Linked DNA regions of Homo sapiens: region 2 is linked to region 1. Evidence: fine-mapped expression QTL. A gene starts in region 1. The other region holds a variant in brackets. All regions are shown on one strand. Distances are from middle to middle.

Region 1 (14,889 bases):
GTTGCAGTGACCCGAGATCACGCCACTGCATGCCAGCCTGGGCAACAGGGCGAGCCTCCGTCTCAAAAAAAAAAAGAAAGTCATGCTAGTATGCTGGGTGAGGTCACTCATGCCTGTAATCCCAGCACTTTGGGAGGCCAGGGTGGGAGGATCACTAGAGCTCAGGAGTTCAACACCAGCCTGGGCAACAGAGTAAGACTTCACCTCTATAAAATATATATATTTTGTTTGTTTGTTTGAGACGGAGTCTCGCACAGTCGCCCAGGCTGGAATGCAGTGGCACAATCTTGGCTCACTGCAAGCTCCACCTCCTGGGTTCACGCCATTCTCCTGCCTCAGCCTCCCGAGTAGCTGGGACTACAGGTACCCGCCACCACACCCAGCTAATTTTTTGTATTTTTAGCAGAGACGGGGTTTCACCGTGTTAGCCAAGATGGTCTCGATCTCCTGACCTCGTGATCAGCCTGCCTCGGCCTCCAAAGTGCTAGGAAAATATATATATTTTTTAATTAAAAAAAGAGAGACCAAAATCTTTTCTACCTTGATAAAAAGTTAAAACTCAATGCCTAAGATGGAAAAATCAAGAGATACCAGCAGAAGCTTATTACTCAAAAATATGGAGAGAAATTTCAAAAGATAAGCTAAAAGAGTTAAAGATGGGGGTTATGACGGATAAGTTCTTCATTATAAACCTTTTAATTCCATTTGACCTTTCAGATCAGCACTGTCCAACAGAAATACAATGTCAGTCACACAAGTAATTTTAAGTTTTCTAGCAGTCACATTTTAGAAACTACAAAGAAACAAAAGACTTTTTAGTATAGTTTTTTAACCTAATATATCCAAAATATTATCATTTCAACATGTGGCACTGGCCACATTTGAAATGCTCAATGGGCGTAAGTGACTAGTGACTACCTTTATCAGACAGTAGTTTTAGACTTTATGCATTTAATATTTTGAAAAGAATTATTTTTATTTTAAAAAGTAGTAGTAGCATAACAGCTTACCTTCTGTACCTGAGCTTTGACCACCAGTCCTGGTAGCAAGTTATTAAGGTTCCAGCTCTGCTGTTCAGTAGCAATGGCCGTAGAAACCTCTGAGTGACCAACAGACAGACTAACAACTCCTCCGTTGCCTTTCACCTTTTCAACAATGCAGTTCAGGTACTGACCCACCTTTAGTTTAGCACCTGTAAGCCCAGACCCAGGCCCCAAAAGGAAAAATGTATCTATGAGAAGGACTTTTAACGTGGGCCCAAGTAATACCTGAAAAGACCCATGGCCTACCTGCCCAGTTAGCATCAGTTACTCCCCAAATTCCCAATCTTTAAGGGGCCAACTACAAGAAGGAAACGAAGTTATCCTAATTGATCTGGAATTCAATTACCACACAAAAATACACAAGCCAGGAGACTGCTGGTTCAGAAGCCATGGGGGCCCTAATTGCAGTGGAATCTTCCAGGTTAGAAAAACTGACACTGTTCCATCAGATCTTAGTGAGACCTTACCACTCGCTGGCCCTTCATACATCTTTCCTTTCCTATTAACTAGGATTAAGTGCTGGTTTTACCAAAGCCACAGCACCTTCAGGGTCACCATTCTGTCATGTTACTCATCAAAATGGCACTTAAATATAATCCCCACATGTACCACCTCACCACCATGTACTGGCCCCTTTTCTTGCCCTCACCTTTGTTCTTCTGTCTGATGTACTCCTGGGCTTTCAGCAGTGGCAGAAAAGCTCTGGTCCCATCAACACCAATGTCCACTAGGTAGCCATGGTCTTCCAGGCTGGATACGGTACCTGTAAGTAGCTGGGGAAGAGAAAGTAGTCCCAGAAGTTCCAATTCAAAGGTAATGGGACACACACAAAACATCCAAACTTGAATGTTCCTGCCACTAAGCTCACACTCTGCCACTATCCCACTCCCACATTAAACCTTAAGCCACAATCCCACTAGACAGCAGACATCAAATTCAACACTCCCAGGCTTGAAGGAGCTGATGGTTGCCAGGCAATGAGGAATGTTTAACACAGCTGAATGATGGAACAATATAGAAGAGTCTCTTGCCTCAAGTGGTTTCAAAAGATAGCAAACTTTCGGCAGGGCACAGTGGCTCATGCCTGTAATCCCAGCATTTTGGAAGGCTGAGGCAGGCAGATCACTTGAGGTCAAGAGTTTGAGACCAGCCTGGCCAACATGGTGAAATCCCGTCTCTATTAAAAATACAAAAATTAGCTGGGCATGGCACCTGTAATCCCTGCCTCAGGAGGTTGAGGCAGAAGAATTGCTTAAACCCAGGAGGTGGAGGCTGTGGTGAGCCGAGATCATGCCACTGCTTTCTAGCCTGGGCAACAACAGCGAAACTCCGACTCAAAAAAAAAAAAGAAATTTGGACTTGCTTTCTCTTTTCTCTTCTCCAATGTAATGATTAGGTTCAAGTCTTCAATGTCCATTAAGTGCCCAAAGAACCCAAGAGACCTTCCTTCCAGAAAAAGAACCACTCCTATGTGTCACAATTGAGCTGAAAGTAAAAGGTGGCCTAGACCACGCTCCCTCAGAGGCAGAGAGAAGGCACATTGCCACTCTTCCTCCCCGACCCTAGACACCTACCATGCCAGGCTTCAGGGCCTCAGCACTCAGCACTCTGTTGACATTTTTGGGGTTCAGAGACAGCTTGACACTCTTCTTGCCCCTGTCTGTGATGCCCAGACTGCTCACCACACATCTTACCAGCATTCCAGGTGAGAAAAGTTCAGGCAAGTGAAGTAGGTCCTGCATAACACAAATGAGAAAGACCTGATATACACCCTTCTCCTGAACCAAAAATCCATTACCCAGCTTTGGCTCAGTGACTTCTCATCCTCAGACCCCAGAGAACCCAAAAGGTGGGTGAGGAATAACCCCCCATCCACAAAGGAAGTTGGGTCTGTGGCCTAGCCACAGTCTTGAATTTCAGCATAAGGCCTTCAAATATTTCCACATAACTGGCATGTAAAATGACTTGTCAAAAGAGTTGTCTACACTTTCTGCCTCTACTTCATCCCTTACTCATTCTTCGGCTCACTGCAATCTGCTTTCCACCCCTCTCACTCCACCACTCTATCTCCCATAGAATCACCAATGAGTTCCATATTGTTAAATCCAGTGGTCAGTTTTGCAGTCTATCTCTTACATGACCATTAAAAAGCACTTGAGGGTCGGGTGTGGTGGCTCATGCCTGTAATCCCAGCACTTAGGGAGGCCAAGGCGGGCAGATCACCTGACGTCAGGAGTTTGAGACCAGCCTGGCCAACATGGTAAAACCCTGTCTCTACTAAAAATACAAAAATTAGCTGGGTGTGGTGACATCTGCCTGTAATCCCAGCTACTCAGGAGGCTGAGGCAGGAGAATTGCTTGAATCTGGGAGCTGGAGGTTGCAGTGAGCTGAGATCATGTCACTGCACTCCAGCCTGGGCTAAAGAGTGAGACTCCATCTCAAAAACAAACAAACAAACAAAAATCATAGGTCAGGCATGATGGCTCACACCTATAATCCCAACACTCTGGGAGGCCGAGGCGGGTGGATCATTTGAGGTCAGGAGTTAGAGACCAGCCTGGCCAACATGGTGAAGCCCTGTCTCTACCGAAAATACAAAAATTAGCTGGGTGTGGTGGCTGGCACCTGTAATCCCAGCTACTGGGGAGGCTGAGGCAGGAGAATCACTTGAACCCAGGAGATGGAGGTTTCAGTGAGCTGAGATCATGCCACTGCACTCCAGCCTGGGCAACAGAGTGAGACTCTGTCTCAAAAACTGAAAAATCATGATCATCTCTCCCAATCCAGGTCCCCTTCAGGGTTTCCTATCTCAGGATGTCATGACCAAGCATCAAATCATGCAAAACAGAAACCTAGAACTCAGCCCTGACACCTCTATCTGCCCCACCACCCATATTGAATCTATCACCAAGCAATGACTTTGCCTCCTCAGTCCTCAGGAAATCCTGAACCCAGGTCACCATCAATCTCAGGACGTGAACGACTACAAGAGCCTCCTAACTTGTCTCTAAGCAACTTCTCATGCCTCTTCAATCTACACGTTATGCTGTACCCCAGTGAGAACATTTCAAGGACTTCCCATTGATTCTAGAATTTAAAAACAACCCTTAAAATGGTCTACAAGGCTGCATGTGCCCTGGCCCCCATTCAGGCTCTCCTGCCCATCTCACATCACACTCTCTCTTGCTCTCCTTACCTAGCCATACTAGCCTTCTCTCTGTTATATATTACATTGCTTCTGCCTGAACGCCTTTCCTTCTTTATCTAGGGAACCCTCATTCTTTAGATCTCAGCTTAAGCATCCCTTCCTCAACAGTCTTCCAGGCTCCCAGACTTAGTCAAAAATTCCTTTATGATAAACTCTCACGGGACCTTGTACTTTCCCTTCTTAGCACCTGGCAAAGTTGTAATTTTAAATCTATTTGTGTTCCACTTATTTTCAATAACAGGCTTCATTCGGATTTCCCTTACCTTCAGAGGTTGTTCTTGTGTCACCTGCTCATTCAGCTTTTTGGTGTAGGCATCACAGATTTCAGTGACTTGCACAAAGCCCTGGAGGCCATTGGGGAGACTAATCACCAGTTCCAGTTCATTCACCTCTTTCACGCAACCCAAAATACGCATTCCCTCACACAGGGACTAGAAGAGAAAAAGTGAAATGTGTACAATAAGGATGGGAACAACAATAGGGAAGGTTGGAAGGTCTGGCTTCTAGTGTCAATTTAAAAGCTATAAGGCCAAGCACAGTGGCTTACGCCCTATAATTCCAATACTTTGGGTGGCCAAGGCAGGAGGACTGCCTGGGCTCAGGAGTTTCAGACCAGCCTGGGCAACGTAGTTTCTCCAAAAAAAAAGATTAGCCAGGCATAGTGGTACACGCCTGTAGTCGCAGGTACTCGGAGGTGAGTGGATCGCTTGAGCCAGGAGGTTGAGTCTGCAGTGAGCTGTGATCACACCACTGCACTCCAGCCTTGGCAACAAAGTGACACCCTATCTCAAAAAATAAAGATAAAAAATAGGCCGGGTACAGTGGCTCATGCCTGTAGTCCCAGCACTTTGGGAGGCTGAGGCGGGTGGATCACCTGAGGTCAGGAGTTCGAGAGCAGCCTGGCCAACACGGCAAAACCCCGTCTCTACTAAAAATACAAAAATTAGCCGGGCATGGTGGCAGGTGCCTGTAATTCCAGCTACTCAGGAGGCTGAGGCAGGAGAATCACCTGAACCTGGGAGGTGGAGGTTGCAATGAACTGAGATCATGCCACTGCACTCCAGCCTGGGCAACAAGAGTGAAACTCTGTCTCGAAAATAAAAAAATAAAAATAAATAAAAAATAAAAACCTACAGGAATTTTATAAATGAAAAGAAATACACATGTGTACATATCAGTGAACTTCTCAAATATCTGACCGAGCACTGTAAAAGGTCTAGATTATACAACAGTGTTAACAGCACTGGGATACTGGAGGACACCTTTGCCTTTTACATTATTCTGAGCAACCCAAACTCAAATGCCTGGCAGACAACACAATGAAGGAAGCCAGCTAGTGGAGACAATGGCAGTCTGGAGTGACCATGCCAGGTCTAAAGGACACAACCACTACTCAGCTCCTTGTCATTACAAACATGAGGGAATACGGGCCTTCTGCTATCAGTACTTTCAAATTTTTACAAGAAGCCAGAAATCATATTTTCATGTAAAAAAATTTTTAGTTTTCAGCCAGGTGCAGTGGCTCACGCCTGTAATCCCAGCACTTTGGGAGGCGGAGGCGGGCAGATTACAAGGTCAGGATATTGAGACCATCCTGGCTAACATGGTAAAGCCCCGTCTCTACCAAAAATACAAAAACTTAGCTGGGCGTGGTGGCGGGCGCCTGTAGTCCCAGCTACTCAGGAGGCTGAGGCAGGAGAATGGCGAGAACCCGGGAGGCGGAGCTTGCAGTGAGCAGAGCAGAGATGGCACCACGGCACTCCAGCCTGGGCGACTGTGCGAGACTCCGTCTCAAAAAAAAAAAAAATTTTAGTTTTCTAATGTTGGCACCAAGTCTAACAATTTTTTTAAAGTATCATATAGGACAAAATATTGACTCTGAATCTAGCCAAATATGAATGTTCCTCTTCAAAGTTATTTAACTTCTTTTCTTTTTTATAACTAACACATATTGGTGTTATCATCTAAAAATGTAAGGCAGGCTGGCCGCGGTGGCTCACGCCTGTGATTCCAGCACTTTGGGAGGCCAAGGCAGGCAGATCACGAGGTCAGGAGTTCCAGACCAGCCTGACCAACATGGTGAAACCCCGTCTCTATTAAAAATACAAAAATTAGCCAGGCGTGGTGAGACACCTGTAATCCCAGCTACTCAGGAGGCTGAGGCAGGAGAATCGCTTGAACCCGGGAGGCAGAGGTTGCAGTGAGCTGAGATCACATCACTGCACTCCAGACTGCGCAACAGAGAGAGATTCCGTCTCAAAATAAATAAATAAATAAAATAAAATAATTTCAAAATTAAAAAATAAAAAATAAAAATGTAAGGAACACAGACCACTTCAATTCTTGGAAATGGGTTTCACATCTATGAAATGAATGGGTAAGATGAGAATGACTGCTAAAGTTACTGTCCATTCTAACCTCTGAATATATCAGAACTCAAGTCCTGTGAGGACACAAACAAGCCCACGACAGCTTTAAAGGAAAAAAAGGGGGCAGGCACGGTGGGTAGCTCATGTCTATAATCCCAACACTTCGGGAGGTTGAGGCAGGAGGATTGCTTGAGCACAGGAGTTCGAGACCAACCTGGGCAAAATAGCAAGATCCAAGCCCTACAAAAGATTTAAAAATTAGCTGGGCATGGTGACACACACCTTTAGTAGTCCCAATTTCTCAGGAGAAGCTGAGGCAGGAAGATTGCTTGAGCCCAGGAGTTCAAGACTAAAGTGAGCTATGATCATGCCTGCATTCCAGCCTGAGCAACAGAGTCAGGCCTGTCTCTGGAAAATAATAAATAAATACAAAGAAAAAGAAAAGATTCCTGGCATCGGTTAGCAATGGAAGGAAATCATGCTTACTCCTTAGCATAAATTCCAAGCATCTCTACACACACACGCATGAAATATAATATATTAAGGGGAAAATGGAATTAAGGGAAAAAAGAAGGAAAGAAGAAAAAAAGAACATACACAAACTTAAGCAACCAAGGTCGATTGTTTAAATGAAAACCAACTTTAACAAACCTCAACACTAAGGATTTCAAACTTCTCTCTTGCGGACTTGCTGCTTTCTCTCTTTTCGATTTTCAACTTTTTTGTTTTTGCTGGCCCCTTCTGGCTCTTTTTTCTTTTGGTGGATCCCTCTTCAGTAGAAATCTAGAAGCGGGTAGGGGGAGCCCACAAAGACCCAAAAGAATAAGAAGCAATCTGAGTTTTCCCTCCTATTTCAGGTCATCACTCACCTTGCTTTGTTACTCCTTCACTCCACCCTACCCCATCCCACTCCCAATTGTTCCTTTAATTCTTGCTTAAAAAAAAAAAAAAAAGGGGGGGGGCCGCCAATGTTCCCTCTGCCCAAGGTCTGAGAAGCCTCCTTCATGTTCCCAAAGTCTCTTCTCTCTTGTGTTCTCCCTCTCTTGACTGGGATGAACACTGGGTTCCCCAGTTTGAGAAGCAATGTAGAATAGTGCATGAAAATGGACACCAGAGTTACACAGACCCAAGTTAAATTCTCATCTTTTCCACCATAACAAGCTATGTGGTTTCAGCTAAATTATATAAAATCCAGGCACAGTGGCTCACACCAGTAATCCCAACACTTTGGGAGGCCAAGGCGGGAAGATCACTTGAGATTAGGAGTTCAAGACCAGCCTGGCCAACAGGCTGTATTTTTTTTTCCACTAAAAATACAAAAAAATTAAGCCGAGCATGGCAGCACGCACCTATAGTCCCAGGTACTCGGGAGGCTGATACAGGAGAATTGCTTGAACCAAGAAGTGGAGGTTGCAGTGAGCTGAGATCACAACACTGCACTTCAGCCTGGGCGACAGAGCAAGACACTGTTCCTCATCATGGAATTGCAATCAGTGCTTCACAGTACAGTTGAAAAGATTACATAATACAGACCTAAAGCCACACACTCAAATGTTAGTTCCCTTTCCCCAAGCATTTGGAGCACAGCCTAGTCTAGGTGAGACTGTGAAGTCTAATGCAAATTCTGACCATTACATGTGGCAAGGAACCCCTGTAAAAATGCAATGATCAGTCAGACACAGTGGAACATGCCTGTTGTTCCAGTTACTCAGGAGGCTAAGGAGGGAGGATCGACTGAGCCCAGGAGTTTAAGTCCAGCCTGAGTAACAGAGTGAAACATCATCTCTCCCCATCTCTTGAAAAAACAACAACAAAAATAACAAAAACATCAGCTGGGTGCAGTGGCTCACACCTGCCATCCCAGCACTTTGGGAGGTCAAGGTGAGCAGATCATCTGAGGTCAGGAGTTTCAGACCAGCCTGGCCAACATGGTGAAACCCCATCTCTAACAAAAATACAAAAATTAGTCAGGTATGGTAGCAGGCACCTGTAATCCCAGCTACTCACGCCACTGCACTTCAGCATGGGCAACAGAGTAAGACTTCGTCTCAAAAAAAAAAAAAAAAAAAAAACTGCTTCCTCTCCATCCTTAATCAACATGGCACATGGCAAAGAGTGTCTAAGAACAAGGAACAGCACTTTATTTATTTTGTTTGTGTGTTTTTTGAGACAGAGTCTCACTCTGTCGCCCAGGCAGGAGAGCAGTGGCACAATATTGGGTCAGTGCAACCTCCACCTTCTTGGTTCAAGCAATTCTCATGCCTCAGCCTCCCAAGTAGCTAGGACTACAGGTATACTACCATGCCCAGCTAGTTTTGGTATTAGTATAGACGGGGTTTCACCATGTTGGCCAGGCTGCTCTTGAATTCCTAGCCTCAAGTGATCCGCCTGCCTCGGCTTCCCAAACTGCTGGGATTACAGGCATGAGCCACTACGCCCAGCTAATAACAGTACTTTAATACTAAATGCCAAGCTTCAAAAGATACAGCCTTGTGGTGGTATGGCCTCTCTAAATGAGTTAAATTTATAGAAGTAGACTTCAATGCAAAAAAAATCTGGAAAAATAACACATTCTCAAATAAGGCTCATTTTTCACAAGACACTACAGTAAAAGTTTCCAGTGAGTGTCACCAAACAAGCATACTACTTACATCAAATAAGTTGTCTTGTTCAACTGACTGCTGGAAAGCTTTCTCTGGTTTGTGGATCTTTCTTGTACCTCCTCGGGGGAAGCTTTCTTCCAGGTTTGCCATGTTTGGGTCTCCTAAAAACAATGCAAAGGATAATGGTGACATGTTGTCTTGGTAGCAGATTTCAGAAAGGTGTTATCAACGGGCAAGAGACAGAACGTTCCAGCAATATGCTAGACAACATTCAGGACTACAACATAGATGGTTTAGATGTCAGGCCCGGAATAATCCATACTTCATCTTTCCAAAGGTCTCTGCTTCAAAACCACAAGTCCACCCACCTTCTTCCAGAAAAAGAAGTTATAGATTCAATGTAGCACATACTCACTAAGAAGCTACAGTTAAGTCAGAGATACACTGTAGCTCTACAGATGAATATATAATCCTCTGCCTTCAAAGAACATGCACACTTTTTGGAAGATAAAACAATTATGCAAGTAACTTAAAATGCAAATCAGATTATAAATGATCACAAAGATGTAGGAAGGGATAAGGCAATGTAGGAAGGGATAAGTAAAGGAGGCAAGCTTCATAAAGAAGATCTTTTTTAGCTTAAGGGTAAAAGATGAACAGAAGCTTGACAGGTAGAAAGGGAATGTGAGAAAAGACATGGATGGGAAAAGCCTATTATTTCAATAAACACCAGCAATTTCCCTATCAAACAACTGCTCAAAGGCTTGCTGTTGTCTCTGAGGAATTATTCAACTAGACCACTGGGAGATTAAAGCATAAAAATTGAAGTTAAATTTTAAAGAAGGCCGGGCACCATGGCTCACACCTGTAATGCCAGCACTTCGGGAGCCCGAGGCGCGTGGATCATCTGAGGTCAGGAGTTCGAGACCAGCATAGTCAACATGGCGAAACCCCGTCTCTACCAAAAACGCAAAAATTAGCCGGGCGTGGTGGCCTGCGCCTAGTCCCAGCTACTAGGCAGGCTGAAGCGTGAGAATTGCTTGAGGCCGGGAGGCGGAGGTTGCAGTGAGCTGAGATCATGCCGCCGCACTCCAACCTGGGAGACAAAGTGAGACTCTGTCTCAAAAAAATTAAAGGAGAAGTTGGGCTTTTTTGTGGAAGACCTTGAATTAGATATGGGTAGTTTGCTTTGGCAAGTCAGAGACTTAAGCAGGGAAAGCGAGAGAACAGTAAGCAAGAAAAATATACTGCAGGCTATAGATTGGACATGAAGAGAGACAGTATTGAAGGCAAGTAAATTCGGTAGAAGGATTCAAATGCACTGTTTCCTGTTATCTCAGTGACAGAAAAAAAAAAAAAAAAAAAGGATTCAAATGCAGTACAGCAGAGAAACCATGAGAACCAGAACTGGGTATAAGTGAAAACAGAAGACAGGAGAGGTTAGTTCTGACAGACACTTGGTAATAAGACTCTACAAGGGCTTTAGACTAAAGAAGTGATGACCGGGTGGGGCCAAGGATATGGAATCAGGGATGGGTATATGATTCATAGAAACAGGAAAGTTTGGGGGGTCTAGTTTGCTGATAATTTCACCCTTAATTTCCTTTCAAGCAAGGGGAAACTGAGGCTCTGAAAAGTAAGGCGATCCAGGGGCACAGAAGATACTTAGGCTACTTTCCGAACACAAAGCCTGGGGTTACAGGGGCTGCTACAACAGAGCCGGCTTCGAAGCGGGGCTAAGGTGGCCGAACCACACTCATCTAGCGTGTGCCTGGCAGGGAACCAGGCCTGGGACAGACCTGACAGCCATGAGGTTTCCTCCTTTTTCGCCTCTGCCTTTACTCACCAGCGCCACGGCGTCTGCACCCAGCTACCACTAACCTCGCGCCGCGGTACTCACACACGCGGAGACCAGGATACCCACAGTCCAGTGCAATTCTTCCGGAAGTGTGGGCGGGCTCAACACCCTACTTCCGTTGCTGTGTTGCGGAGGTGACCTAGAGACAGGAATCGGAAGGGCGGGATTTGGAGCCATAGCCAATCGTCGCATTAGGCCGAATCGCGGGGGCCGGCTAAACGCGTGCGGGGGAGGTGGCTTCTTCCGGCCGGGCCGAGAGGTGGTTACATTCGTTGAAGGACACCAGCTGCGGAATTTGCGGCTTTGGCAGGTGGGTGAAGAGGGGAGTCCGGGCTTGGACCTGGCGCCTGCACGTTGCAGGACCGCCCGCCGTTTCTGGCCGAGGAGCAACTCGAGTTCTTAGCTTTGGAGGAGAGAAACGGTGGGGAATGGGAAAGGAGCTAGAAAAAACGAGGGGCGCAAGGGGGCGGCCAGCGGGTGAGAAGCCTCGAGGTGAGGCGGATAGGTGCGCCCAAGGGCTCCCACAGTTTCCGAAGACCCTTAGATTGCATTCGCCAGTGGAGAAAAATGAGGCCCTCCGCGAAGCGTCCCTCGAGGTCACCCAGTGACGTAATATTGGACGAGGACTAGGGCTTCTGATCCCCATCACCGGCCGAATTAACCTCTTTTCTTCTGTATGTCCATAGCTGTTTGTTCCCACCGAGCTGTGCTTTAGGAAGCTGGCCAGCCGGGCCTCCTTTAGGTGCGCTGCAGCCTTTTTCAAAGCGAGTGAATGTGGCCCGGCCCCTACAGTTCGCCAGGCCCGCTGTAAAAGGGTTAGATTTCAGTCTATAGACGATCAGTGGGAAGGCCTTTCCTAGGAGGTAACCAGAACAGAGAGCTGTAAACTCCGTGAATGCAAGAGGCTGCTTCTGTTACCTGAGTGGTTCTCACTCATCTTTGCCTTCCTTACCTCGTGATCTCACCATTCCAGGTAGGTGTTAAGTTAGAAAGGAAAATAGCAATATCGAGGAACAGAGAAAGTAACAAGAGCTACTGGTCACTTTGGACCTTTAATAAAGTGCCCATCTCACAGGTGGAGAGAGGCACGGAAGGATTAGTTACATTTAAGAGCAGTTAGTGGCCGGGCGCGGTGGCTCACGCCTGTAATCCCAGCACTTTGGGAGGCCGAGGCGGGTAGATCACCTGAGGTCCAGAGTTCGAGACCAGCCTGAGTAGTATGGTGAAACCCCGTCCCTACCAACAATACAAAAATTAGCCGGGCGTGGTGGCGCGCGCCTGTAGTTCCAGCTACTCGGGAGGCTGAGGCAGGAGAACCGCTTGACCCCGGGAAGCGGAGATTGCAGTGAGCTGAGATCGCGCCACTGCACTCCAGCCTGGACGACAGAGCGAGACCTTGTCTCAAGAAGGGCAGTTAGCAACTTAATTAAAACATACCACCGTTTAACAACATTAAATCACAACTAGGAGTCTTACAAAGGGCACTGTAAACACAAGGGTTCCTTTATCTTTGCCCTAAAGTAACCTGCACCGTGCTGAAGAGTGCAGAACCAAATTTTTCGACCTTACTCCATTATCTCACCAGCAACAATCCCGTTCCCCATTTGGCCCTCCATTTGAGCCTCTCAAGAGTCCTCCTCCTTTAAGACCCAGACTAACTTGAGTGATTGATTTCAGTTCTTGAACCATGCACTTCCCTGCAATCAGAATTAGTCTTCTGTGGGATATCACAAAACATCAGCCTTCCTCCCATATTGTGTGTAAATTAAAGGGAAATTTAAAGCGCTGTAGTATTGTTGGGCATATCCTCCTAAAAAGTTTAGTTAGATGTAATGTAGTGGAGGTTTTCGTTAATGGTCAAAGTGAAGCCCTTATTTTCTGTAGCGTTTCTCCTAAAAACCTACTTCAAACCCTAAGAAGTGAATCCAAAAATGTATCATGAAATGAATGGAGCTGGTGGGGGGGCGGGGGGCGGGGGGAAGTATGTCTTTAGTAAGTTTAGTAAAGTGGAACAGTTGATAGCTACATTATAAAGTTGCTTTTATCGCTTCTGTTGGCTAAGATCAAGTGTATAAAGTTATTTTTAATGGAGATTTTCCTACTTGGGCTAGACTGGCCAAGGTCTCTGAAGAGGCCTAAGGAAGTTTGGATTTCCTTCATTGCTCCAAGAACCTTCTTGAAACTTGAAAATTAAGGTCATTTTTCTCAAATTTTCATTGCCAATTCTTTACACAAGAATGCCTCTGAAAGCCTTTGAATGGGGGAGTTCCAGTTTCCATAGTAATGACTCCCTGACAGATATCTCCCTCTTCCATTTCATCAAGACCCAGCTGAGTCACTGTCACTGCCTACCAATCTCGACCGGACCTCGACCGGCTCGTCTGTGTTGCCAATCGACTCGGCGTGGCGTCGGTCGTGGTAGATAGGCGGTCATGCATACGAATTTTCAGCTCTTGTTCTGGTGACCTTTTGAATACGTCTTGTCTATAAAAGAAATTCATGCCTTTGTAAAATACACAGGTACTATAGATTAAGCTGCCTTTGCTATATATTCTTCCAGAGTTTTTTTTAATACACTTACTATTTTTCTATTTCATTTACTGCAGTATTTTTCAAACTTTAGCATGCTTTAGAATTATCTAGAAGCCTTATTAAAATAGATTCCTGGACCCAGAGTTTCTGATTCAATAGGTAGGGCCTAAGAATTTGCACTAACAAGTTTCCAGTGATGCTAATGCTGCTGGTCTAGGGACAAGACCCAGAACCATTGACGTGCTTTATAAAATCCAGAAATAAGATTTTTTCTTACAAAATTGAACGTTACTTGGGACATCTTCCCATGTCAGTACACAAAGATCTGTGCCTGTTGTGTGTCGTTTAATGGAAACCATCATTTTTTAATCAGTCTTCTATAGATGGACTTTTAAGATTTTCATAAACAGTATTTCATTGACCATCTTTGAACCACACAATGTGTTTCCACTTTGTAATATTTCAATAAGGGTAAATTCCTGGAGAAAAACACCAGCTAGATGAAAGGGTATACTCATTTTATAATTCGATAAGATACTGCCAACTTGCACTTTCTGAAGGTTGTACCAGTTTATTTATTTTTTATTTATTTATTTTTTTTTTTTTTGAGACGGCGTCTCGCTCTGTCGCCCAGGCTGGAGTGCAGTGGCGCAATCTAGGCTCACTGCAAGCTCCGCCTCCCAGGTTCATGCCATTCTCCTGCCTCAGCCTCCCGAGTAGCTGGGACTACAGGCGCCCACCACCACGCCCGGCTAATTTTTTGTATTTTTAGTAGAGACAGGGTTTCACCGTGTTAGCCAGGATGGTCTCGATCTCCTGACCTCGCATCCACCCGCCTTGGCCTCCCAAAGTGCTGGGATTACAGGCATGAGCCACCGTGCCAGGCTGGTTTTACCAGTTTATACTCCAAGCAACAGAGAGAGAATTCTTAGTTTTCTCACATACTTAATACTACTACTTACCATAATTTTATTTTTGCTTGTTTGATGATTAAATATTGATCTCATTTTACATTTCTTTGACTAATAGGTTTTATGTTTTTTTTGGTTTTTGGCTTTTTTTCTTAATATTTTCCCTTCCCTGAGATGACTTAAATATTTCCCCATGTTTTCTTCCAGGACTTTTTGGTTTCACTATTTACATTTAAATCTTTTATCTATTTTGGTGGTGGTGCAAGGATTCCAGCTTCCTTACTACCACCAGTAGCTATTATTAACTCCATTTAATAAATTATCCCTTCTCCCTTCTCCCATGGAGGTCCTAAATTACTTATAA
Region 2 (14,889 bases), 59 kb before region 1:
CTGGGGGTGGTGGTACATGCCTATAGTCCCAGCTACCTGGGTGGCTGAGGCAGGATGAATCACTTGAACCTGGGGAGTGGAGGTTGCAGTGAGCCGTGATCATGCCACTGCATTCCAGCCTGGGCAAGAGAGTGAAACTCCATCTCAAAAATAAATAAATAAATAATAAAATACAGTAAAAATAAAACAAAAGTGTCAGTAGCTTAACACAATAAAGATGTATTTCTCACTCAAGCAAAACCTGATGTAGTTAAACAGGGAAGGGAGGTTGAAGAAGGGGGATCTGCCCCACACAGTCGCTTGGGGACCCAGCTGACACTGCCATCTTGTGATGCCACCATCAAGACACATGATATGGCTGGGTACAGTGGCTCACGCCTATAACCCCAGCACTTTGGGGGGCCGAGGCAAGGGAGGATCCATTGAGGCCAGGAGTTGAGACCAGCCTGGGCAACATAGCAAGACCCTATCTCTACAAAAATTACAAAAAAAAAAAAAAACCCTAGCTGGGCGTGGTGGTGCACACCTGTAGTCCTAGCTACTTTGGAGGTTGAGACTTAATGATCTTTTGAGTCCACGAGTTCAAGGTTACAGTGAGCTGTGATTGTGCCACTGCACTCCAGTCTGGGAGATGGAGCAAGAACCTGTCTCTAAATAAACAAATAAAAATTTAAAAGACCCACAGTATTTCCCAGAAGCAGGTCCTGAGAAAAGGAAATGAGTGCACATAGCTTATAAGAATGTTGCTTCCGGGGAACCCTGCAAGGAACAGAAGTGATACTGGAGAGGGAAGAAAGCCAACCAAGGGTAGAGCCGCCAGCCAGTTACTACCGTGGGCAACCAGAGCATGATCCGACCGGGGAGCTCGGGGAGAGCACAACACGAGTAACCGCTCCCCAGGAACGAGGAGGTGGCATGTCTTCACCAATCTCTGGCTGTCACTGGCTAGGGCACTAGCTGGGCACCTCCAGGTTTCCTTGGGCCAAATGTAAACCCAGTGCCAGAAAAAAAAAGCCCTCAGGCAGACAGTCTGGGCTGTTTTTAGTGAGCAACCTTTAGAAGATAGTGGTGAAAGGCTGGGTGTGATGGCTCAAGACTGTAATTCCAGCACTTTGGGAGGCCGAGGCGGTTGGATCCCTTGAGGTCAAGAGTTTGAGACCAACCTGGCCAACATGGTGAAACCCCATCTCTACTAAAAATACAAAAATTAGCCAGGCGTGGTGGCGGGCACCTGTTGTCCCAGATACTTGAAAGGCTGAGACAAGAGAATCACTTGAACCCAGGAAGCCGAGGTTGCAGTGAGCTGAGATCACACCACTGCACTCCAGCCTTAGCGACAGAGTGAGACTCCATATCAAAAAAAAAAAAAAAGAAAGAAGGTAGTGGTGAGGTCTGAGGGGAGTGGGCGGGGCACAGAGGTCTGTTACACCTGGTGTCCATGGCCACCCTCAGAGAAGAATGGGAAGATGGTAAAGGATGAGGGTAGATTCTGCACCAGAACTCAGGCACAAGGCCCCAGCCTCCCTGGCACAGAGGCTGAGAATTATAAGGGAACACGTGAATGACTTGGTGAGTGCTACCATTTTGCCACAGCATACACCCCCATAGGGTTTGGCTGATGAAGGAGAACGTAGCATTTTATCTTTCTCAGGTAGAGACTTCATACCTCTGATAACCCAGCCTACCAGCACCTGAGATGCCTTGGCAGCCACATTTGCTGTTGGCTCCTGCCTCCTCCACTGCCCCAATCTCTGGACGCACCCCACACTCACACTCTCCTACGCAAATTGGGCATTTTCCTAAAAGTACGGCACCCACTGTCCACAGGAGCCTCCTTTGCATGCTGCTTTTCATGACACCCCTAACTCCTCCAAACCAGAGGGCACTCACCAGCTGTGCCCTCTGGGTGCTTGGACAACAGCCCCAAGGCCAGGAAGCAGGAGGCGAGTGTACATCCCACAGTGGTGACCATGGCTGAGTTTGCCACCATGCTCCAAAATGTGTGTGACATCCTGCTTTTTATTTATTTAGTCGTGACCTGGGAGTTATAGGGAAGAGATGGAGAAGACTAAGCACTGATAAATGCACCACCAAAGACCCCTACTGAAGTTAAACAGAACCATGGGCCCCCAAGAGTCCACCTCCTAATGTCTAGAACCTGTGAATATGTTACCTTCCATGGCAAAAAGGGCTTTGCAGATGTGATTAAATTATGGATTTTGAGATGAGGAAATGATCCTGGATTAGCCAGGTGGGTCCTGCATGTCCTTATAAGAGAGAGGTAGGGCCCGGCACGGTGGCTCACTCCTGTAATCCTAGCCCTTTGTGAGGCTGAGAGGGGAGGATCACCTGAGGTCAGGGGTTCGAGACAAGCCTGGCCAACATGGTGAAAACCCGTCTCTACTAAAAATACAAAATTAGCCAGGCATGGTGATGCACGCCTGTAGTCCCAGCTACTAGGGAGGCTGAGGCAGGAGAATCACTTGATCCCAGGAGTCGGAGGTTGCAGTGAGCTGAGATCACATCACTGCACTCCAGCCTGGGTGACAGAGTGACTCCATCTCAAAAAAAAAAAAAGAGAGAGAGAGAGAGAGAGGTAGGAGGAGGGTGAGAGTCAGAGAAGGAGCTGTGATGAGGGAAGCAGAGGTTGGAGGAATGCGATGTCACAAGCCAGGGAATGTGGGTGTCCTCTACACAGTAGAGAATACGAGGAAATGGATTCTCTTCTAGAGCGTCCAGAAGGAACAGCCTGCCAGCCACTTGATGTTAGTCAGCCAAGATCCATTACAGGCTCCTGACCTTAGAACTACAAGAAAAAAAAATTCATGTTGTTTTAAGCCACTGTATTTGTGGACATTTGTTACAGCAGTTAATAGAAAACTAATACAGATTTTGAAAATGCACTACTGAAGCTCAGGTGCAGAGATGATCACTATTATTATTACAATGTTGTAAAGATGGTTCACGACCACTCCTTGTGTGCCTGGCGCACTGCGAAACTCTTGACCTGCACAGCTGATTGAATCTTCACAACCACCTGGGAGGCAGGCGCTATCATTCTCCCCATTTCACGGATGAGAACGCTGCAGCACCCAGAGGTTAGATGACTTGCCCAAGGTCCCTGGCTAGTGTGTGGCCAGACTGAGACTTGAACCCAGATCACTGGTTGGGTTGCTCTTAGCTCTGTGACATGGCTTTTTTTTTTTTTTTTTTTTTTTTTGAGAGGGAGTCTTGCTCTGTCGCCCAGGCAGTGGCATGATCTCAGCTCACTGCAACCTCCGCTTCCTGGGTTCAAGCGATTCTCCTGCCTCAGCCTCCCGAGTAGCTGGAATTACAGGTACACACCACCACACCTGGCTAATTTTTTTTTTTTTTTTGTATCTTTAGTAGAGACGGGGTTTCACCATGTTGGTCAGGCTGGTCTCGAACTCCTGACCTCAAATGATCTGCCTGTTTCAGCCTCCCAAAGTGCTGGGATTACAGGTGTGAGCCACTGCACCTGGCCAGCTTCTTGGTAAGAGAAAAATTTGACCATCGAGTGGAAGAAACAAGGAGTGAGCAGGTGGAGCCGGGATGTGGCTTTGGATGGGCAGTGAGGCACGACCGTGTTCCAGGAGAGCAGCAGCGTGAGGGAAGGGTGGTGCCTGGGAGCCCAGGGGTGTCCCTGTGTCCAACAGCTTGGGCCACAGTAACAAAACATACCACAGACAACAAACATTTATTTCTCACAGTTCAGGAGGCTGCAAGTCTGAGATGAGTGTACCTGAGGCTGGGTTCTGCCTTCTCACTGTATCCTTGCAGAGTGGAGGTCCAGGGTCCAGGGTCCCTTCTATAAGGGCACCAATTCCATTCACGAGGGCTCCACCCTCATGGCCTAATCACCTCCCACAGGAGGTGTATCCATGATGACGTTGATATACAACACTGGGCCACAGTGAGGGAACTAGGAGACATCCATGGGATGCCTGGTGAAAAAAACAAAAAGATTACTATTTCTTTATCTTATATAATTATGATAGGAAAAAATGAAATATAAAGTATTAGGAAAGACTTGTGTAAAACATCCAAATGAAACCTCCTAAACTTCTCAAAATGAGAAATGAGCTTGCTTTCGTGAGCACTTTTTAATATGAGGTGTTTTTTTGCATGAAATGACCACAGGCAATTCCTATTCGAGGCTCTTTATTTTATTTATTTATTTATATTTCTGAGACAGAGTCTCGCTCTGTCACCCACACTGGAGTGCAGTGGCATGATCTTGGCTCACTGCAACCTCCATCTCCTGGGTTCAAGTGATTCTCCTGCCTCAGCCTCCTGAGTAGCTGGGATTACAGGTGCCCGCCACCACACCCAGCTAATTTTTGTATTTTTAGTAGAGATGGGGTTTCACCATGTTGGCCAGGCTGGTCTCGAACTCCTGACCTCAGGTGATCCTCCCGCCTCGGCCTCCCAAAGTGTTGGGATTATAGGTGTGAGCCACCACACCCAGCCATTTTTGTATTTTTAGTAGAGACGAGGTTTCACCATGTTGGCCAGGCTGGTCTGGAACTCCTGATCTCAAGTGATCCGCCCATCTCGGTGTCCCAGTGTGCTAGGATTTCAGGCATGAGCCACACCACTCCCAGCTCATCAGGTCTTTTTTTTTTTTTTTTTTTTTTTTGAGATATAGGAGTCTCACTCTGTCACCCAGGCTGGAGTGCAATGGCGCGATCTCGGCTCACTGCAACCTCTGTCTCCTGGGTTCAAGCGATACTCCTGCCTCAGACTCTCGAGTAGCTAGGACTACAAGCGTGCGCCACCACGCCCGGCTAAGTTTTTGTATTTTTAGTACAGACAGGGTTTCTTGATCTCCTGACCTTGTGCTCTGCCCACCTCAGCCTCCCAAAGTGCTGGGATTATGGGTGTGAGCCACCGCACCCGCCCTCATGAAGGCTCTTTAATGATGATTTCTTCAAATGTTGGATAAACACCACCCACAAAAAAACTTACCCCAAGTAGGTGATAATTTTTTTTTTGAGACAAGGAAAAAATACAAAAATTAGCCGGGCATGGTGATGCACACCTATAGTCCCAGCTGCTCAGGAGCCTGAAGTGGGAGGATGGCTTGGAGGTAGAGGTTATAGTGAGCTGAGATCATGCCACTGCACAGCAGGCTGGGTGACAGAGTGAGACCCTGTCTCAAAAAAAAGAATTAACCCTCACTCTTCACTCTCACTGACAACTGTAACACATTTTTTTTTCAGGCATAGAGACTGGGTCTCTCTATGTTGCCCAGGCTGGTCTTAAACTCCTGGGCTCAAGCAATCCTCCCTCCGTGGCCTCCCAAAGTGTTGGGATTACAGCTGTGAGCCACAGTGCCCACCCTGCAACCAAAATTCTTATGATAATGATTGATTGAGAATCTAATCAAACTATTATTATTATTATTATTATTATTATTATTTATTTAGAGACAAGGTCTTGCTCTGTCATCCAGACTGGAATGCAGTATTGTGATCATGGCTCACCACAGCCTCAAACTCCTGGGTTCAAGTGATCCTCCCACCTTGGCCTCCCAAAAGTGCTGGGATTACAGGTTTAAGCCACTGTGCCCAGCCTCAAGTATTTTAAAATAACACTGCGCTTAGAATTTGCAGAATGTGTATATGTGGTTAGAGCACGCAGTATGGGCACTACTAGAAAGGCACATTATCTACAAACAGGGAGCTGTGTGCAATATACAAGACAGAATTCCAGGTGGCCCCCTGAAACCACTCCTCCTGGTTTCCTGGACCACCCCAAGCCCACCCCAGCTCTGGCATCAGCTCACACCTGCTGTTGGCCATGCACGCAAACACTGCAGGAGACGTGCAGGGTAGGTCGCCTCCATCACTGGACCTCCCTCATCCTGCCATCCACCTATAGTGTTCCCTGGGGAGCCTCTGCAAGGGTCTTCCGGAGGCTACCAGCCTGGGGGCTCCATTTGCCCCAAGCCCAGCCTGACAGCAAGAGGAGCAACATCCTTCCCCACTGTATCCTATTGGTGACACTCCAGCATCTCCACCCAGACCAGCAGAACAGGAGCCTGATTTGCCCAGAAGAGAAAGGCCAAAAAACATTTCCTGACCCCTCCTCCACCCCCCACTCCCAGCCCCACGAGAGAGCTAGCCTGGGTTCCAGTCCCACTCCTCCACCTACAAGCTGGGTAACTCTCAGCTGATAACTTAACCTCTCCAAGCCTCAGTCCCCATCTCTGTAAAATGGGGATGGCAGTACCTGTCCCATAGGATTGTAAGAAGATTACACAGGCAATGCATGTAAGTGCCTGCCATGGGGCTCCACCCAGGGCAAGCCTGGGTCAATGCTGGTTCTGGTCAGTGATACAGAGACCCTCAGACACAAAGATCACTAACGTGGTCACACACACACACGGATACACAGATGCAGAGGCCCAAAGGCACAGTGAGCTCACATGTGGGCACACACATGGGGAGGCACAGATCTGTGGGCCCCATGGGGATGTCCTGGCCAGGCTCTGTCTCAGCCCCAGACCCCACCCCTTTCCCCAGACAGGAGCCCCCCGGCTGGAGCTGGATCTGACCTGCCCTTGGGAGGTCAGGGAGAGCCCTGGGCATCAGAGCGAGCATGCTCAGCTCCTCCTCTTTGATGTGTCTGTGGAGGAGGGCTGGCCAGGTTTCTGCAGGCACTCTGGAGGCCCAAACTCCAGGCATGAAACCCCATCACCCCACCCATTTAATTTTTTCACCCCCTTGCTGTCAGCATGCAGACCCCTTTATTTTTTGATTGGGGAAGTAGAGGTCGGAGGTGGAGCCAGGAAAGGGTTTGCCATCCACAGCCCACAAACACACAGGCACACCCACAGAGACACAGGCAGGCTGACACAAGGACCCCTGCAGCACACTCACAGGCCACAGCCCCTGCCCAGGCAACTTATCAAATTCAAGTCCTCTGCCAGCAAATCCAGGATGTTTCATTCTACGCCACGTCCACATTAGCACCATCCCCTGCACCACCACTGCCATCCCCTCTGTGGCTAGTATCCCCACGACCACCAGCAGCACCCTCACTGCAGCCACCACCACCGCAGCACCACACCGTCATCGGGGAACTGATGGAGGAGCCCTCTAGGATTCTGATACAGCATGGAGGAGACCCCCAGTGGGAAGGGCAAAAGGAGGGCGATGAGCTTCCTAGGAGCCCAGAAGACAAGGTCCAGGACCTCAGGCCCCTGCAGCAGCCCTGGACTCTCCAAACTCCAGCCCTGCTGGAGACAGTGTCTTCCCAGTCTGTGTCTGAGCCTTCTCTCCCGCCCCTCCCTCCCTCCCTCCCACACCCACAGAAAGCTGGTCTCTAGCAGGTGCTAGCGCCGGAGGTGGAGGCGGCTGCAGAGAGAGAGAAGCCCAGGAGGGAGGGGCACAGCCCTGGCTGAACCCACAGGATTGGTCAATCTGCATCCTCTCAGCCAGCACCTGACTAAAGATTCCTCAAAGCGACAGTGACCTCAGCCTCTGCTCTGAGCTCTGTTGGTCCCAGCCAGGAGAGCCCGAGTCATGAGGTGGGCACCCAGTGGGCAGGGTGGGCAGCAGGGGCCCTCTTGGAGGCAGCAGTGAGTTGGGAAGAGGAGGCCGGGCCCCACAGCGGGCATGATGGACAAGTTCCGGATGATCTTCCAGTTCCTGCAGTCCAACCAGGAGTCCTTCATGAATGGCATCTGTGGCATCATGGCCCTGGCCAGTGCCCAGATGTACTCGGCCTTCGACTTCAACTGCCCCTGCCTGCCGGGCTACAATGCAGCCTACAGCGCGGGCATCCTGCTGGCGCCACCCCTGGTGCTCTTTCTGCTTGGCCTGGTCATGAACAACAACGTGTCCATGCTGGCCGAAGAGTGGAAGCGGCCGCTGGGCCGCCGGGCCAAGGACCCCGCTGTGTTGCGCTACATGTTCTGCTCCATGGCCCAGCGCGCCCTCATCGCGCCTGTCGTCTGGGTGGCCGTCACGCTACTCGACGGCAAATGCTTCCTCTGTGCCTTCTGCACTGCCGTGCCCGTGAGCGCACTGGGCAACGGCAGCCTGGCACCCGGCCTTCCTGCCCCCGAGCTCGCCCGCCTGCTGGCCCGGGTGCCCTGCCCTGAGATCTACGATGGCGACTGGCTGTTGGCCCGAGAGGTGGCCGTGCGTTACCTCCGCTGCATCTCCCAGGTGAGGGGCCGCATGGCTTCACGCTGGGTCTCCCTGGCAGATCAAGGTCCCTCTGGGAGGGCCCTATCCCCCTACCTCTCAAAATGGGGCCTCTGCTCAGGTGGAGCTCCGAGGTGTGGGGGGCATCTTCCCAACTGAGGCTGAAGGCAGAGCCACGCATCTGCCCTCAGCCCAGGGCCATCCGGAGAACGTGCTTTGGCTCCCTCTGTCCAGAGGCTTCTGGTGAGTGGGCCTGACCCCTATCCTGAGGTCCCCAGAGTGGACCTGCATCCCCATCCTGATTTCTGAGCTTGGAAGCTGGAGGAATTTGCATGCTTTCCCTCTTCCGGGCCTCGGCAGTGGTGAGGCCAGTGGGTGGCTAGGCCATTTGGGTACATTTCCCTAGCAAATGCCCCCATCTGGTGCTTCCCTGCTGGGGAGTGGGAGCTGAGGACCAGGGTGTCCTGGAAGGGGGTGCATGGGTGAGAGAGAGGAGGCCCTGTTGGGATGTGATGGAAAGGCAGTTTGGAGAGACCACTGACGGGTCAGCCAGAGTGAGGGTCCTCCCCAGCCCTACTCCCACATCCTCTGCCCCTCCATGCTCACCCATCCAAGCCTCTCGGGCCTTCTCCAACCCAGTCAGTGCCGTGTGGGGAGGACCACCCAGGCAGCCTGCCCTCACAGCTGGCAGACCAGGTGCTGTCAGGGCGAGGGGCTGGGGCCAGCCTGCTCTGCAAGGACTGGAGAAACGTGCACACTCTGCCCTGGCAAGTCCAGACACCCCTGGCTTCCCACTCTAGCAGGGGCCTCTCTCCTGGGAGGCCTCTGTCACCACCCAGATGACCTTGGTGAATGTCATGCTCTAAGCATCCCGACTGAACTCTACTTCCCTCTCCTCCCTAACCTGTGCCTCCTCTCCTGTGGGCACTCATCCCATCGTCCCCGGCCTCAGGGCCTTGGCAGCTGTCATTCCACCTGACCTTTAAGCCACCACATCATAAGCTGAGAGGGCCCCAGAGGCCACAGGCTGCCTGGCCTATACATGTTTCATTTGGCCTTCAGAGACTGAATTCTAGATTCAACTTTAGAATTTGTTGGCATCTTCTAAAAACCAGAATGGGCCGGGTACGATGTGCCTCATGTCTGTAATCCCAGCACTTTGGGAGGCCAAGGCAAGAAGATTGCTAGAGCCCAGGAGTTCAAGACCAGCCTAGGGAATATAGTGAGACCCTGTCTCCAAAAAAGAAAAGAAAAGAAAAAAATTAGCCAGGCTTGGTGGCACATGCCTGTAGTCCCAGCTACACAGGAAGCTGAAGTGAGAGGATTGCTTGAGCCTGGGAGGTCAAGGCTGCAGTGAAATGTAATTGTGCCACTGCACTCTGGCTTGGGTAACGGAGTAAGACCTGTCTCAAAACAAAAAAGTAAATAAGATTAAAATAAAAATCGGAATTTTTCACATAAAAATCAGATTTTCAAGTTGGAAATCCAGAAAATCCAGCCCCACCAGGCCCGCGTGTACTCCTGGAACAGGCTGGGGTGCCCCCAGCCTATGCACATGCTCAGTGGCTCCCCACCCCGTGTGCTCTGTCACGACCTGCCTGGCCCCATAGGCATCTGGGCTTGCCCTCAGCCCCAGTCCTGATCTGCCCAAGTGCTTCTCTGTGCGGCTGGGGCCTAACCCTGAAGCGTGGGCCAGGGGAGCATCCTGCCCCGTGCCCTGCAGTGAGGTGACAGAGCAGAGCTGGAACCAAGCGCAGGGTGCTCTTCAGCGCAGAGTTTGATTTCTTGCCTGATTCGCCTCTATGACCCCTGAAGGCCCAGCTCAGAACCGACACAGAGGAGGTGCTCATTTGGCACTGGTGACAATACTAGGAGCCAAAGGAGAGGTTCAGGACTCAGAGGAAAATGGGCCACTATGGCCTGGGGAGATCAAGGAAGGCTTCCTGAAAGAAGAGGCACAGTAAGTAAGTGAGGGCCTATTGGCACAACAGTAATGGTTAATAGTCACTGAGCACTGGGTACCAGGCACTGCACTAAGCTTATCACATTCAGTCCTCACAACAACACTCTGAGATAGGTGCTACCACCAGCTGCTTTATAGGTGTGGAAACTGAGGCACAGAGAAGTTGAGTGCTTTGCTCCTGGTCAACTAGTAAATAGTGGAGACAGCATTCAAACCCAAGCAGCCTAACTCCAGGGTCTGCCCACTTAACTCCTGGGCCCTGGGTGCCCCGCCAGCACGGTGGGTGCTTTACCCACGTGATCTTCTTTCCATGAGGTGCACCTATCTCCATTATTTCAATTTCTATGCCCATTTTACAGATGAGGAAATGGAGGCCAAGAGGCAAGCTCACTTGCCCAATTTGTGCTCTTTGCCCTAGAGGCACTGGCATAGAGA[G/A]TGCTTTGGGAGTCTGAACAGGCTCGGAGGCCCAAGGACAGTGCCCCGTGACTCTCTCTCATCTTCCCACAGGCGCTGGGCTGGTCCTTCGTGCTGCTGACCACTCTGCTGGCATTCGTGGTGCGCTCTGTGCGGCCCTGCTTCACGCAGGCCGCCTTCCTCAAGAGCAAGTACTGGTCCCACTATATCGACATCGAGCGCAAGCTCTTCGACGAGACGTGCACGGAGCACGCCAAAGCCTTTGCCAAGGTCTGCATCCAGCAGTTCTTCGAGGCCATGAACCATGACCTGGAGCTGGGTCACACCCACGGGACACTGGCCACGGCCCCTGCTTCCGCAGCTGCCCCCACGACCCCCGATGGTGCGGAGGAGGAAAGGGAGAAGCTGCGTGGCATCACGGATCAAGGCACCATGAACAGGCTGCTCACGAGCTGGCACAAATGCAAACCGCCTCTGCGGCTGGGCCAGGAGGAGCCACCGCTGATGGGCAACGGCTGGGCTGGGGGTGGGCCCCGGCCTCCGCGTAAGGAGGTGGCCACCTACTTCAGCAAAGTGTGAGGTGTGGCCAGCTGAAGAGGCAGGAACGGGGATCTGAGCCCACAGCCCCTCCAACCCCCAAACCAGGTGGAAAAAGGAAGGGTTTCAGTGCTGGGCAGTACTCCCCTAGGCAGATCCACACTCCCTAGCACTCGCCTGCCCATTGGAGGCAGGAAATTTGGAGCTGGAAGGGGATCTGATGCCTTCAGGTGTGACACTGCCCTGGATGGCCCTAGGGCAGTGGGCCCATGAGCAGTATTAGTCTAAAGGGGTCGGAACTGTCATGGCAGGTACAGGGACCAATGGCTCCCCTCTGCCCAGCCCTTCCCAGGCTGATGTTCACTGTCTCCTCCCAGGTTCAACAGACATCCCTGCCCCAGGGTCCACCCTCGTCTGTGGCTGTTCAGTACCTCTCTTCCTTTATGCTCCGGGCTCGGGGAGTGGGAATCATCAGGCGTCTCATGAAGTGGGAGCCCTCTGATTTGGGCAAGCGTGTCGTAGGTGAGACTGGGTGTGCCGGGGCAGGTCCATAAGGACATGACACACAGCCTACCTGGTGTGACACACCTGGGGTGACAGGCGATGAGACAAGATGTCAGAAGCTAGGTTCACATGGAAGAGGTCAGAGTGTGTGGTCACCATGGGGGTCATGTGACAATTGTCCAGGTGGACTGCATGTTTATTTAGCACAAACCAAGCACAAAAGTCCTCCTGTAGAGGGGTCTTTGAAAAACCACCTTAATACCCCCGTCACATCCAGGTCTCCAGGGGAAATCAGACCATCCCCAAGGCTTGAGAAGTTAGACACAGAAGCTGAAGTCTCTCCATTTTTCTCAAAGACCCCACCTCTTGGGGATGGAGTTCTAAGAGGCTAAGAGGAGCTCCAAGGCTCTAGCCCAGGTGGGATGAGGGTGGAGGAGAGCAGTGTAAAGAGAAAGCAGCTCAGATTCCAGAGTGAGACAGAACTGGGTCAAATGGTGTCTCTACCACTCACAAACCCTGTCCCTGGGCCAGCTGCATCACTGCCTGTGCCTTCGTTTCTTCATCTATACAATGAGGATGAGGCCCCCCCGGCCCGCCATCATGGGGTTGCTGTGTGTAAAAGCACATGGCACATAGTAGGCACCCAGCACAGGGTGGCTAATGTATTTGTTGATTTCTGAACCTAAGGACTTCCTTCCTCCTCCCCTGGGCAGGGATGAGACAGCAACACAAACACTCGAGCTTCCATCTTGTTGAGGAGGAAACAGAGGTACAGATAGGTTTCTCAGCACCGCCCTCAGCTCTGAGACATAAGTCCCAAGCATCTAAGGATTCATTTTGATCTTGGCATGATTCCATCCTTTTTTATCCATCCTTCCCTCTATTCCCACTTCTGGGGTCCAGTTTCCCTCCTCTTAATTATTTGGGAGGAGTTGCTCAGATCTTTGTGGGCCAAGGTGGGCTGGGAGGGCTCTTCCAGGAGGTAGGAGTTGGTATGGGCCCTGAAGTCAGGGAGGATTAGGATGAGCAAAAAACAAGGTGTATGTTGGTGGGTGGCAGCACTTCCAGTGGGAAGAGAAGGCCCGGAGGTATCAGGAGGTACAAATGTGATGAAGAGCAAAGCTTTGGGTCAGGCACACCTGAGTTCAAATACCAGCACTGCAGGACTTGTGGCCAGTCACCCAGCCACTCTAAGCCTCAGTGTGTCTGTCTATAAAATGGATATTAGAAGACCTGCTTGGCCAGGCGGAGTGGCTCATGCCTGTAATCCCAGCACTTGGGAGGCCAAGGAGGGAGGATCACTTGAGCCTGGGAGTTGGAGACCAGCCTGGGCAACATAGCAAGACTCTGTCTCTGTAAAGTAATAATAATAATAAGAAGAAGAAGAAGAATAAAGAGAAGATTTATAATTTTTTTAAAATGAAAAAATTATTTTTTAAAAAAGACCTGATTTTCAGGATTGTGGTAAGGATAGAGGAAGATAACTTTTAGGGAAGGATCTGGGACTGTGTTTAGCACATGCTGGGATCTGAAACAAACAAATAAACAAGCAGAACTTGGTACCTTTTCTTTCCTTCGTACATATGGTCAAGCCCAGCTCAGGGAGGCCAGCGGGTCACTCGGCAGCTCCACCATGACGGAACCACGAGCACTGCAGAGCTGACAGATGTCGGGGGTCCTCTCCCTCCATGCTAAGGGTCATCTAGCCTGTCCGTAGACTCTCCTGTGCAGCATTCCTGACCCGTGACGCTTCAGCCCGCATCTTGACCACTTTTAGATACAGGCTGGGCAGCTCTGATTATTACACAGGGCTTCCTTCAGAAACCTGCCTCCTTGTAACTTTCACCCACCAGTTGGAGCTCTGCCTGCAGGACCCGGAGAATCCCTAGGCTCCTGAATTCAATCCTCAGCCCTCCAGGGATCCGAAGCAGGTCCCGGGGAGTTAGCTGACTATAGGTCAAAGAGTCAGCATTGGGGATGGTTTGTCCAGTCAATGGACAACTCTGAGGGAGAAGGGCCAGTAGAGGGTGGGGCCCTGGCCCTGAGCATCCTGCAGGGCTCAGCGCGGGCCTGACGACACCCTCCCTTGACCCTCGCGGGGTCTCCTTTGGTAGCTTCTGCCCAGCGGGGGTCAAGTACGTGGGGTGCTCTTGAAACTGTCATGGGGGGCAGGTCTGGGTCAGATCTCCCCAATGCCTCCACATCCCCACGTGGCCCTCCCGACTGGTCCCATTGGTGTGGAGCATGGCCCGGTCCGGGTCTGGGCCGAGGGCGGAGGGCCAGCACGGCCCAGGGACGGCGAGCAGCGGGTCGGTGGGACGCGCAGCAGCTGCAGAACAGGCATCTCAACTTCCTCTCGGCTCCTCTCCTCTCGCGCCGCCCTCGGGGCCCGCCCTCCTCTGCCTGGTGGCGCCGGGAGGCTGTTTTTCCACTCACTGGCGCGCAGACTCCATCCCACTGTTTTCTTCTCTCTTTTCTGGAGTTAGATTAGTCTGAAGCCGCCACCAGCCCCAGGCCCCCGTGCAGAAGAAAAGCGGGAGGGAACGGCGGAGGCCGCCGCTGCCCTGCACCGCCCTCCTGGAGGCCACTTGGAGAGTCCGGCCCCGAGGAGGCCATGGCCACAAGTGCCCACAGCTGGCCCCAGGTAAGGAAGGGGCCCTCCCTGGGGTGTGCCAGGTGTCAGCGGAGCATGGTGGGGCCTGTCCCACGCTGCCCAGAGGGAGAGAGGCCCCTAGCTGAGGTTCCCTCCACCCGGTTGAACAGGGAGCAGTCCTGCCCCTCCCCGAGCCGCCAGTCTCCTGTCGTCACTGATGTTGGAGGAGGTCCCACTGGGGGTCTGGATGTGACCCATCCTTGGCCTGGGGGCAGTGGTCTCAGAAGATGGCCTGGCCCATCCTCTGCTCACCACCCACCCTGTGCAGGTATCTTGTACCCCACTTTGAGCCAGTTTATGAACCCAGGGCCTCCACAGGGAGCTAATTAGGAGCCTAGAAGCCAAGAAGGGAAAAGGATGGGGCAAAGGGGGCTGACTTTAACCCATTCTTCCCCAGCAGTGATGCAAACTGCCTTTCCCAGGAAGTTAGGCTGGAAGCTCCAGGCTGTGAAGTGGGGGAAGAATCAGACTCCTCCTCCTCCTCCTCCTCCTCCTCCTCCTCCTGTTGTTCCTCCTGGTCCTCCTCCTCCAGCTTCTCCTTTTCTTGGAGTCTGCATGGCCACATGGCTCTGCCTGAGCCCATCTGGCAGCCTTCCTTGGCAGGGACAGAAGGGGTGATCTAGAAGGGGTGATCCCTCCAT

The links. PIP is the estimated chance that this variant, and not a neighbour inherited with it, causes the effect.
Region 2: its variant is fine-mapped to the expression of PDCD11 in whole blood (TOPMed, PIP above 0.99).

Annotation. Positions count from the first base shown.
Region 1 is chr10:103,392,912-103,407,800 of GRCh38, reverse strand. It overlaps PDCD11 (programmed cell death 11), which reads right to left and starts at 11,175. Exons shown (of 36, transcript NM_014976.2): 1 at 11,071-11,175; 2 at 9,273-9,385; 3 at 7,273-7,404; 4 at 4,516-4,683; 5 at 2,618-2,779; 6 at 1,693-1,816; 7 at 1,011-1,192. The coding sequence starts at 9,374. It overlaps ATP5MK (ATP synthase membrane subunit k), which reads left to right and starts at 11,326. Exons shown (of 5, transcript NM_001206427.2): 1 at 11,326-11,392; 2 at 11,769-12,055. It overlaps MIR1307 (microRNA 1307), which reads left to right and starts at 13,400; the gene lies at 13,400-13,548. RefSeq lists enhancers at 9,689-10,189, 10,190-10,691, 11,349-11,598, 11,749-11,838, 11,231-12,063.
Region 2 is chr10:103,451,506-103,466,394 of GRCh38, reverse strand. It overlaps CALHM2 (calcium homeostasis modulator family member 2), which reads left to right and starts at 14,025. Exons shown (of 4, transcript NM_015916.5): 1 at 14,025-14,239. CALHM1 (calcium homeostasis modulator 1) reads left to right here and starts at 7,495. Exons shown (of 2, transcript NM_001001412.4): 1 at 7,495-8,198; 2 at 10,648-13,155. The coding sequence starts at 7,644. The coding sequence ends at 11,133. It overlaps LOC124902494 (a long non-coding RNA gene), which reads right to left and starts at 13,952. Exons shown (of 2, transcript XR_007062275.1): 1 at 13,159-13,952; 2 at 3,700-3,965. RefSeq lists enhancers at 7,485-7,644, 13,792-14,413, 14,414-14,889 and a silencer at 13,624-13,953. The variant G/A (reference allele first, on the strand shown) is at 10,576.